Linked DNA regions of Homo sapiens: region 2 is linked to region 1. The links come from fine-mapping of genetic effects on gene expression. A gene starts in region 1. The other region holds a variant in brackets. All regions are shown on one strand. Distances are between the middles of the regions.

Region 1 (4,384 bases):
GTAGAGATAGGGTTTTACCATGTTGGCCAGGCTGGTCTCAAACTCCCGACCTCAGGTGATCCACCTGCCTCGGCCTCCCAAAGTGCTGGGATTACAGGCGTGAGCCAATTGTGCCCGGCCTAAGTTTCCTCTTTCTAAAATGTGGCTTGTCTTTCTCAATTTCAGAAACTTGCCCAAAGCATGTAGCTCTAAGCAGTACCCTGTCAACTTCAAGATAATGGCCCACAAGACTACATTACCCTCCAGCTTGTCTTTTCTTGATAGCTGTTTGAGGACAGCATTGATTAGGCCTATTAGAACATGACTGAAGTGTTGCCCCATTCTGGTTTCCTGTTATGAATCTGACATTTCTGAAAAGTCACTGGTTACAGACTAGATCAAGGAAGGAGACTACTCAAATAATTAACTGTGACACAGAATATCCAGATAAACACCATGTAAGAATTTACAGATTCTATTTCCCTGTCCACACACAGGAGAGTCCTCAGCTCACTATCTCATTCACAGGTTAATAAGAACAGGTGATGACTCAGAATTCGCTTCTAATCTTAGTTTTCTGAGCCTTTAAGCACACATACATCAGAAAAAAACAGCGTCAGGAGGACTGAACAGAAAGCCAGAAGACAGATTTCCAGTTCCGCCCAAACTGATCCTCTAATGCAGGTACACAGAAGCTGGGGGAAGTCATTTCGGTGTGAAGAGAAAAGCACTCTAAAGTGCTACCCAATGTTTACTAAGCAGAGGACATGCCTACTACACATTCTTCTGCTTTGCCCAGAAATGCAAACTAAAAAGAACCCTTTGTATAGGTAATCAGACCCACAACCACAGTATGATACCCAGACCAATTCTGAAAAGAACAAGCGTCCTTCAAGGGTCAAATAAGCATTAGTAGCTCCATTCTAGCCAACCAAAGAAAGATAAGGCTAACCATTTTAAAGGTGTTTTTTTAACACTGAGCCATTTCCAACAGATTTGCCTGGCTGCTCTGGGGAGTCAGGCCTCCCTCAGCTCAGGTGAAGCCTCTACCCTTTCCCCTCTCTCTAAATTCTTCTCACTTTTTACCGGGAAGAGCAGCACATCTCAATACATGCAACTGTGCAGCAGCGCATCACTCTGTCACACTGAATCAAGGGGAGTGAACTCAAGGCAGTGAGTAGCTCATGTGCACAATGAAAGTTTTAAAAATTATTAGGCAGTCTATCCTTAATCCCAACTGCTGATAAAAGGAGATATATATCAAAGTCTGTTTTCCTAACCTGCGGAGAATTCAAGTGAGCTGTTTCCGCTCCAGGTCGAAGTCTGGTGACACTCATCAACCCTCAGCAGAGAGCATCCAGGGAATTCAGGACCTTGGTTTTATCGCTAAGGGTGTAGCCACTAGTGCTATTAACAGCAGCACTCTGGGTCCTCACAGAGAGGGCCCCCCTCCTTTACCAGGATCTCCCAACTCTGCAGAGAAAAGCTGGGAATAGGGTCCAGGGCTAAGGCTATTCCCCAGATTTAAAGGAAGCTGTACACGATTTTAAAGCCTCACCTTACCTCAGCTAACAGAGAGGCAGGGGGCGGAGGGCGGAGGACCCACCAACCCAGGGGAATTGTAAGGAGACAAAGATGACCCCAAACGCACAAGCGCGCGCGCACTGAAGCCCGGACTGCAAAGCACATTCCATCAACCTTTCACTGTAATCGGCTTACTGTGGGGTTTATCCCCTCACCCCATCCCTCTCCAGAAAGTTTAAGGCTGTTCGCACCGACTTTGAAAGGTCCATTGTTCCCTTCCCCGTAAACGTAATGAAAAGAGAGAGTGGAGAGAAAGAAATCAAGACACCGTTCCCGAGGACCCTTTCTTAAGAAGAGAGGACTGACTCCTGGGGAGTCGGGTCAGTCCCAATCCAGAGATGAAACCGGGAAAGGAGGCGCACGGGGGAAGGGCGGGAGGACGTTTTCCTTTTCGGCAGAAATGCCCAACGCCGGAGCCGGCCAGGCCGCCGGGAGCAGAAAAGGTGGGCGAGACCCGGGTCTGCGTCCCCGCAGTGGCCCCCGAGGGCAGCAAACGAGGTGGAGCGGGGTGGGGGGGCGGGTGACCGAGTCGCTTCTTACCTTCCCCTACCCCGCTTAGCGTCCGTTAACTCAGGTGCCTACACAGCGGTCCAGGGAGACGGAGAGGAGTCCCTGGCGTCCTCGGGTCCAGATCTCCTCTCCATGGCCAGGAAGCCACTCGATTGCCGGCGCCCGCAGCTGCCGCTCGTACTCAACTGGCAGCCGCAGCCTCTGCCTGGAGGTGAAATACTCTCCTCCCGAGAGTGACGCGCACTTCCCTCCGCCTCCGCCTCCTCCTCCTCCTCCTCCTCCTGCCCCGAGCCTCGGGGGCAGGGGCCTCGGCTCGCTCTCTCCCGGAGCCGCCGCTCGGCTTTCTCCGTTCCTTCCCCTCCGGGAGAAAGAGGAGGAGAATCGTGGCCCGGGCGGCGCGGGCCTGAGCGTCCCCGCGACAACAGGGGAGGAGGCGGCGGCGCGGGGCAGAGTGGGGTCCCAGGAGTCGCTCTTGTCCCTGGTCGGCGGGCGCCGCGGCTTGCTAGGGTCGCGCTCAGCCTCCGCCGGCCAGACAAGCAGCCCGGCTCGGCTGGGCCGGGAACTGTGGATTGGGCGGGCGGGCGGGCGGGCGGTGGAGAGCGAGGGAGGCGGAGGGAGAGGAGGAGCCTGCCATCAGAGGAGGCGGTGGCCCCGCCCGGCCCCTCCCGCCGGCCCCGCTCCCCGCGAGCTGCGAAAGCGGAGGCTCAGCGCCACTCGCTGCCGCGCGCTGGAACAGCGCCCGAGCGCACTGCCGGCGGGGCAGAGCCCCAGCCAGCGCCCCCCGCTGCGGCTGCAGGCTCCTACCCTTCCTGGGCGCGCACACCCGCCTGGCCGAACCGGAGCCTGTGCCTCCAGCACCCCCAGATAAGGCTGGTACTGCGCCTGTCACTCCCTGGCTGAGCCTGACACTGCGCCCCCAAAGTCCCCTGGCTGAGCGTGACTGCACCCCATCAACCCTCGGCTGCGTCAGACTTTGAGCCCCATCACCCGTAAAGAGATTTCCACACTCCCACAAATGTTCTGAGCGTCCAGTCACAGCCCCTACCTGGCCAGGCGCGAGCGCCAGGTTCTCAGCGCTGTCAGAAGAACCAGCCTGCTCTGGGACACAGGGCAGCTCTTCTGGTCCCTTGGAGCAACCCCAGCATCCCGCTCGCAGGCCGGAATAAATATACTTAGGTCTTCCCACGCCCCCTACCTGCGCCACTCTGGAGTGGCGGCCGCTTGCAGAGGTGGCGCCGAAAGCCACGCCCCGGCCCACCCCAGTGCCAAAACGCCGCTCTGAGGACACCGGCACCGGCCCTGAAGCAGCCCTGCCGCCGCCACCCTGCCCCCTCGCTGGAGCTGCTCTCACAGCCTTGGCTCTGGGTGAGGGCGCGGCCCGGGCTGGATCACTCAGACGCACGAGGTCCCGAGCTAGTGACAGCTGCAGGACTGCCAAATCCGGGCCGTCGTCATCCTCGATTTAATTGGAATTGGAAGTTTTCCCTCCAGGAAACTCTTTCAGTGAATAATATACAAGGTAGGATAGTTTAGTTTTCAGGGTTGTTCATTCCTCCTCCCTCAACAAACTCAGTCCTGTAACCGCGACACACCCGGCAGTGAAGGGGAATCCCCTATTTCAAGGGTATTAGTTCAGGACTTTGTATAAGAAATTACTGTTTCCAAATCTTGGCTGATGATAAGAATCCCCTGGGGCACTTAGAAAAAATTGGATTGCCAGACGTCGCGCAATCTACTGAATCAGAGGTATCGGGAATATGTAAGTTTGGGAAACAGGGCTAGAATGCATCCTCTAATTAATTAAAGCCTTGGAAAGATGCCTCCAAAACAGCAGCGCGAGCTAGTGCTGAGATCTTACAGAAACTTCACCCAGCTGCCTTTGAGAGCCGCTGTCCCTTCTGGGATAGGCAGGGAGGAAAGGTTTTTAAAATAAGGAACATAGTTTTGAATAACAAGATGGAAGGGACAAAAGACTGTTTTCATGGTCCAAAGGTGTTTTGGATTGTGCTTAATAAAGATAGAAACTGTGTCACCCGTGTGCTAGGCTGAAAAATGTTCCCTCCCCAGAGATAACAGGTTCTAAGTCCTGGAACTTGTGCATATTACCTTACATAGACAGAAGCAGGGCCTTCGCATATGTGATTCAATTAAGGGTCTTCTTGAGTTGGGGAGATTATTCTGGATGATCAAGATGGGTCCTAACTGCAGTCACATGTACTTTTATAAGGGGAAAGGGGGTGGTTAGCACACACAGAGGAGGGCTGGCCACTGTGGAGGCAGAGATTGAAGCGATGCCTCCACAAGGCAAGGA
Region 2 (4,384 bases), 75 kb before region 1:
AAAACTAAAGCAAAGCAAGGTACTGTGGCCCATGCTTGTGATCTCAGCTACTTGGGAGGCTGAGGTAGAAGGGTCACCTGAGTCTAGGAGTTCAAGGTCAACCTGGGCAACATAGCAAGACACTGTCTTAAAAAAAAAGCCCCAAAGCAGCTGGGTGCAGTGGCTCATGCCTGTAATCCCAACACTCTGGGAGGCTGAGGAGGGTGGATCACCTGAGGTCAGGAGTTCAAGACCAGCCCCCTGGCCAACATGGTGAAACCCCATCTCTACTAAAAATAAAAAAATTAGCTGGGCATGGTGCCTAGCACCTGTAATCCCAGTTACTCGGGAGGCTGAGGCTGGAGAATCTCTTGAACCCAGAAGGCAGAGGTTGCAGTGAGCCAAGATCAAGCCACTGCACTTCAGCTTGGATGACAGAGCGAGACTCTATCTTAAAAAAAAAAAGAAAAAAAAAAACAACCAAAAACCCCTAATGCAATCCCAGATCTTAGGGAAGAGTTTTCAGATAATGAATGTAAAAAGCATTGGGGATAAATATGACTTTTCTAGAGTCCCAGGCACCCAGTGTGTAACAACAGAGTCAAACAATGTTTTCAGACTCTGGGGCATAGCCTGCCTGATATTTTTTTTTTTTTTTTTTTTTGGCAAAACGCTCTCCCCATCTCTCTCTCTCTCTCTCTCTACCCCCCATCTCTCTCTCTCTCTCTCTCTCTCTCTCTATTACCTAGTAAACTACTAGAACAGTGAGACTCAGCACCCACCTGCTTCCCTCATGCAACTCCCACCAGTTACCATGCTAACAGGCTGGGATCAGGTTCCTCATGCAGCTGACTGCATTCAGATGCTGAGCTAGCAAATTTCATGCCAATAAAATTACATCACGGGTGTATTACAAAATGCAGGACTGCTAAAGGAGGGGAACAAGCATAAACACAGACTTGAAGAAACTTTAACCTGGTGTGGTGGCTCACACCTGTAATCCCAGCACTTTGGAAGGCCAAGGCAGGAAGATCACTTGAGCCCAGGAGTTCAAGACTAGCCTGAGCAACACAGTGGGACTCCATCTCTATAAAAAATATTTTAAAACTTAACCAAGTGGGACTAAAGCATGTGCCTTTAGTCCCAGCTACGTGGGAGGATCAATTTAGCCTGGGAGGTGGAGGGTGCGGTGAGCCGAGATTGCGCCACTGCACTCTGGCCTGGGTGAAGAGGGAGACCCTGTCTCAAAAACAAACAAACAAACAAACGACAACAACAACAACAAAAACCAAGAGTCTTTGAGCTACAGTTACATAGGGATAGTCTTAATTCAGAGTTGGGAAGTAGAACTTAAGTTCCGGAGCTGGATGGTAGTGATGGTTGTACAACAATATGAATGGACTTCATGCCACTGAACTGCCCACTTGAGAATGGTTAAGATAGTAAAGTTTATGTGTACTTTATGACAATAAAAAAATTAAGAAAAAAAGTAAAATTTAATTTTCTCCACATATATGTGGATTTGTGATTATGTTGCCCACCACTAAAAAAACCAAGCCCCTAAAAAGACCACATGAGATGGCACAGGCCTTGGCTGAGTATTACCTGAAAGGCTGGATACCTGTCACCCAAAGAGTTCTTTGTATGGTGGCACCTAGGTCAACCTGATTTTGGACAGGCCACATGCTGAGACCTGGTTCTCAGTGGCTAACCTTGCTCTATGCGCAAATGCTAGTGTTGACACTGCAACTCATGTCTATACTTCCATCAAGCCACTTAGAAAAGACAACTAACACTTTGCATCTTCATTTTCCTCAACTGAAAAAATAGAGAAGAGGCAACCTTAAAATAAAAGGCCGAAGAGATGTTAAAACTTTCATTTCCCATATCTTAAACAATCTTGAAGCTTATTTTAAGTTTCAAAGAATAAGGTTAATGAATAAACACAATCTACTCAGGAAAAAA[A/C]CATTTCTTAAATGTATTTAAAAACACAAATGTTTAGGAGTTATTTATACCTCTATTGTATTGCTTGCTACCAACAATAGAAAATGTGATGACAAACCAGTGACTATAGCCAGAAGTAATTCATGTCACCAAGATAGAAGATAAAAGCAAGAAGCTGTGACGGTGTACACATCTGCTTTGGTCTGAATGTCTGTGTCCTGCCAAATATTTCTATGTTGAAATCCTAATCTCCAAGGTAACAGTATTAGCAGGTAGAATCTTTGGGAAGTGATCAGGACACAACAGTGTAACCCCCATGAATGGGATCAGTGCTGTTATAAAAGAAGGCTGAGAGAGACCCCTGGACCGTTCTACCCTGTGAGGACGCAGTAAGAAGGCACCATCTATGAACCAGGCTCACCAGACACTCAATTTGCTGGTGCCTTGCCCTTGGACTTTCCAGCCTCCAGAACTGTGAGAAATAAATTTCTGTTGTTTATTTTTATTTATTTATTTATTTATTTATTTATTTATTTATTTTGGAGACAGAGTCTCACTCTGTTGCACAGGCTGGAGTGCAGTGGCGCGATCTCAGCTCACTGCAGTCTCCGCCTCCCGGGTTCAGGCCATTCTCCTGCCTCAGCCTCCCGAGTAGCTGGGACTACAGGCACCCACCCGCCTCTACGCCCAGCTAATTTTTTGTATTTTTAGTAGAGACAGCGTTTCACCATGTTAGCCAGGATGGTCTCGATCTAACCTTATGATCTGCCCACCTTGGCCTCCCAAAGTGCTGGGATCACAGGTGTGAGCCACCGCACCCAGCCAATTTCTGTTGTTTATAAGCTACCTAGTTTATGGCATTTTGTTATACCACCTAGAACAGACTAAGACAACACCAGATGGTACTTACAGAAATAACAGACGGGTCTCCACGCTGGGTTTCTGCTTTATCAGGTGACTGGAATTGCACAGGGAGGTAACTTTTATGAGGATCACTAGTAAACACCACCTAGACAGAGAAGAAGTTCCATATTTATGGCAACTCTTACCTTCCTCCAAAAGGTTCCCTCAATATAAAGTTAATTATAATTAAAGCCAGTGGTTGTATTTCTTATTCTGAACTTTTTGTACATATTTCATGACCTAGAATTCCATCTTGATATTCTTAACACAGTAAGTATATATTTGTTCCTCATTTTCTGGAGCAATCCCAGTTTCAAATAAATATTATTCTTGTTGTTCACTTCAGTTCCATAACTGATTAAATAAATGTGCTTTATATTTATATTTAAATCTTTGTAAACATTTTATGGAAAAACAGGCACAAATATTTTTTAAAGTTTTTTTCAGACCATGGTCCCTCAGTCACTCTAGGAATGAGGAAAGAAGTGTAGATAACAAGGACTACCCTGTTAAGAAACGTTTACTAACTTTGAACATGAGCAGGTCTCAACTCCTCTTTGTGACCTGCAAGGCATTCCATAAACAGAGTTGTGCCTTATAGACAGGCCCCTATTTTTCCCTGTGCTGTTACACTCAGGCAGGGCCTCACTTTCCCACAAGCACTCCACCCTCTTCCTTGCCACTCTGCCTTTGCTGATGCTGTTCCCTTCCCAGGAATGCCCTTCCCTTTTCCCTGTACTCCTCCAAATTACTCCCAGTCTCCAAAACCTGTCTCCTCCCTAAGGGCTCTCTTCTCATTCAAAAACACTTAACTCTCACACAATTTAACACTTAGAGGTACACTGTCCATATAAACCAATGTTAAAAACTTCCCTGCAAGAATAAACAATCAGCCGGGCATGGTAGTTCATGCCTGTAATCCCAGCGCTTTGGGGGGCTGAGATGGGTGGATCACCTTAGGTCCGGAGTTCAAGACCAGCCTGGTCAACATGGCGAACTCCAGCCTCTATTAAAAATACAAAAATCAGCCAGGCAGGTGGTACACATCTGTAGTTCCAGCTACTTGGGAGGCTGAGGCAGGAGAATTGCTTGAGCCTGGGCGATGAAGGTTGCAGTGAGCTGAGATCGTACCACTGCTCTCTAGCCTGGGCGACAGAGTGAGACTCCATCTCAAAAAAAACAAAAAACAAAAAATAAACAGTCAAAATGATCCCAAGTCGGAAGCTGGGTAGTTCTTTGAAGTCTCCAAGTTTGGGGTCAAAAATTCCTGTGAATTTTCCTATTTACTCCTAATATAAATGTGTTTGGTTTTGACAGTCAGAACAAAAATTAGGCCGGGCATGGTGGTTCACATCTGTAATCCCAACAATTTGGGAGGCCAAAGTGGGAGGATCGCTTGAGCCCAGGACTTTGAGACCAGCCTAGGCAACATAGTGAGACCCCGCCTCTATATTTAAGAAAAAAAAAATTACCCACAAATTTTCAAGTAAAAGCGATGTTCCCAGCGACTTCAACTACTTTGCAACTGCACAAAGTCAGTAATCAATACATTTTAAAA

Alleles and levels. Positions count from the first base shown, and alleles are read on the strand shown. Sizes are in standard deviations (SD) of each study's normalised expression.
In carriers of allele C in region 2, the expression in monocytes of the gene that starts at base 2,260 in region 1 tends to be lower than with A alone (moderate effect, 0.62 SD a copy in BLUEPRINT).

Evidence for each region. PIP is the estimated chance that this variant, and not a neighbour inherited with it, causes the effect. A credible set is the group of variants that fine-mapping cannot tell apart.
Region 2: its variant is the best candidate, but not a certain one, in a credible set for the expression of CEMIP2 in monocytes (BLUEPRINT, PIP 0.52).

What each region holds. Positions count from the first base shown.
Region 1 is chr9:71,766,254-71,770,637 of GRCh38, forward strand. CEMIP2 (cell migration inducing hyaluronidase 2) reads right to left here and starts at 2,260. Exons shown (of 24, transcript NM_013390.3): 1 at 2,104-2,260. RefSeq lists enhancers at 1,918-2,599, 2,600-3,281 and a silencer at 2,355-3,024.
Region 2 is chr9:71,691,676-71,696,059 of GRCh38, forward strand. CEMIP2 (cell migration inducing hyaluronidase 2) reads right to left here. Exons shown (of 24, transcript NM_013390.3): 21 at 2,834-2,932. Among named protein-coding and RNA genes, the nearest start is that of CEMIP2, 75 kb to the right of the region's middle. The variant A/C (reference allele first, on the strand shown) is at 1,945.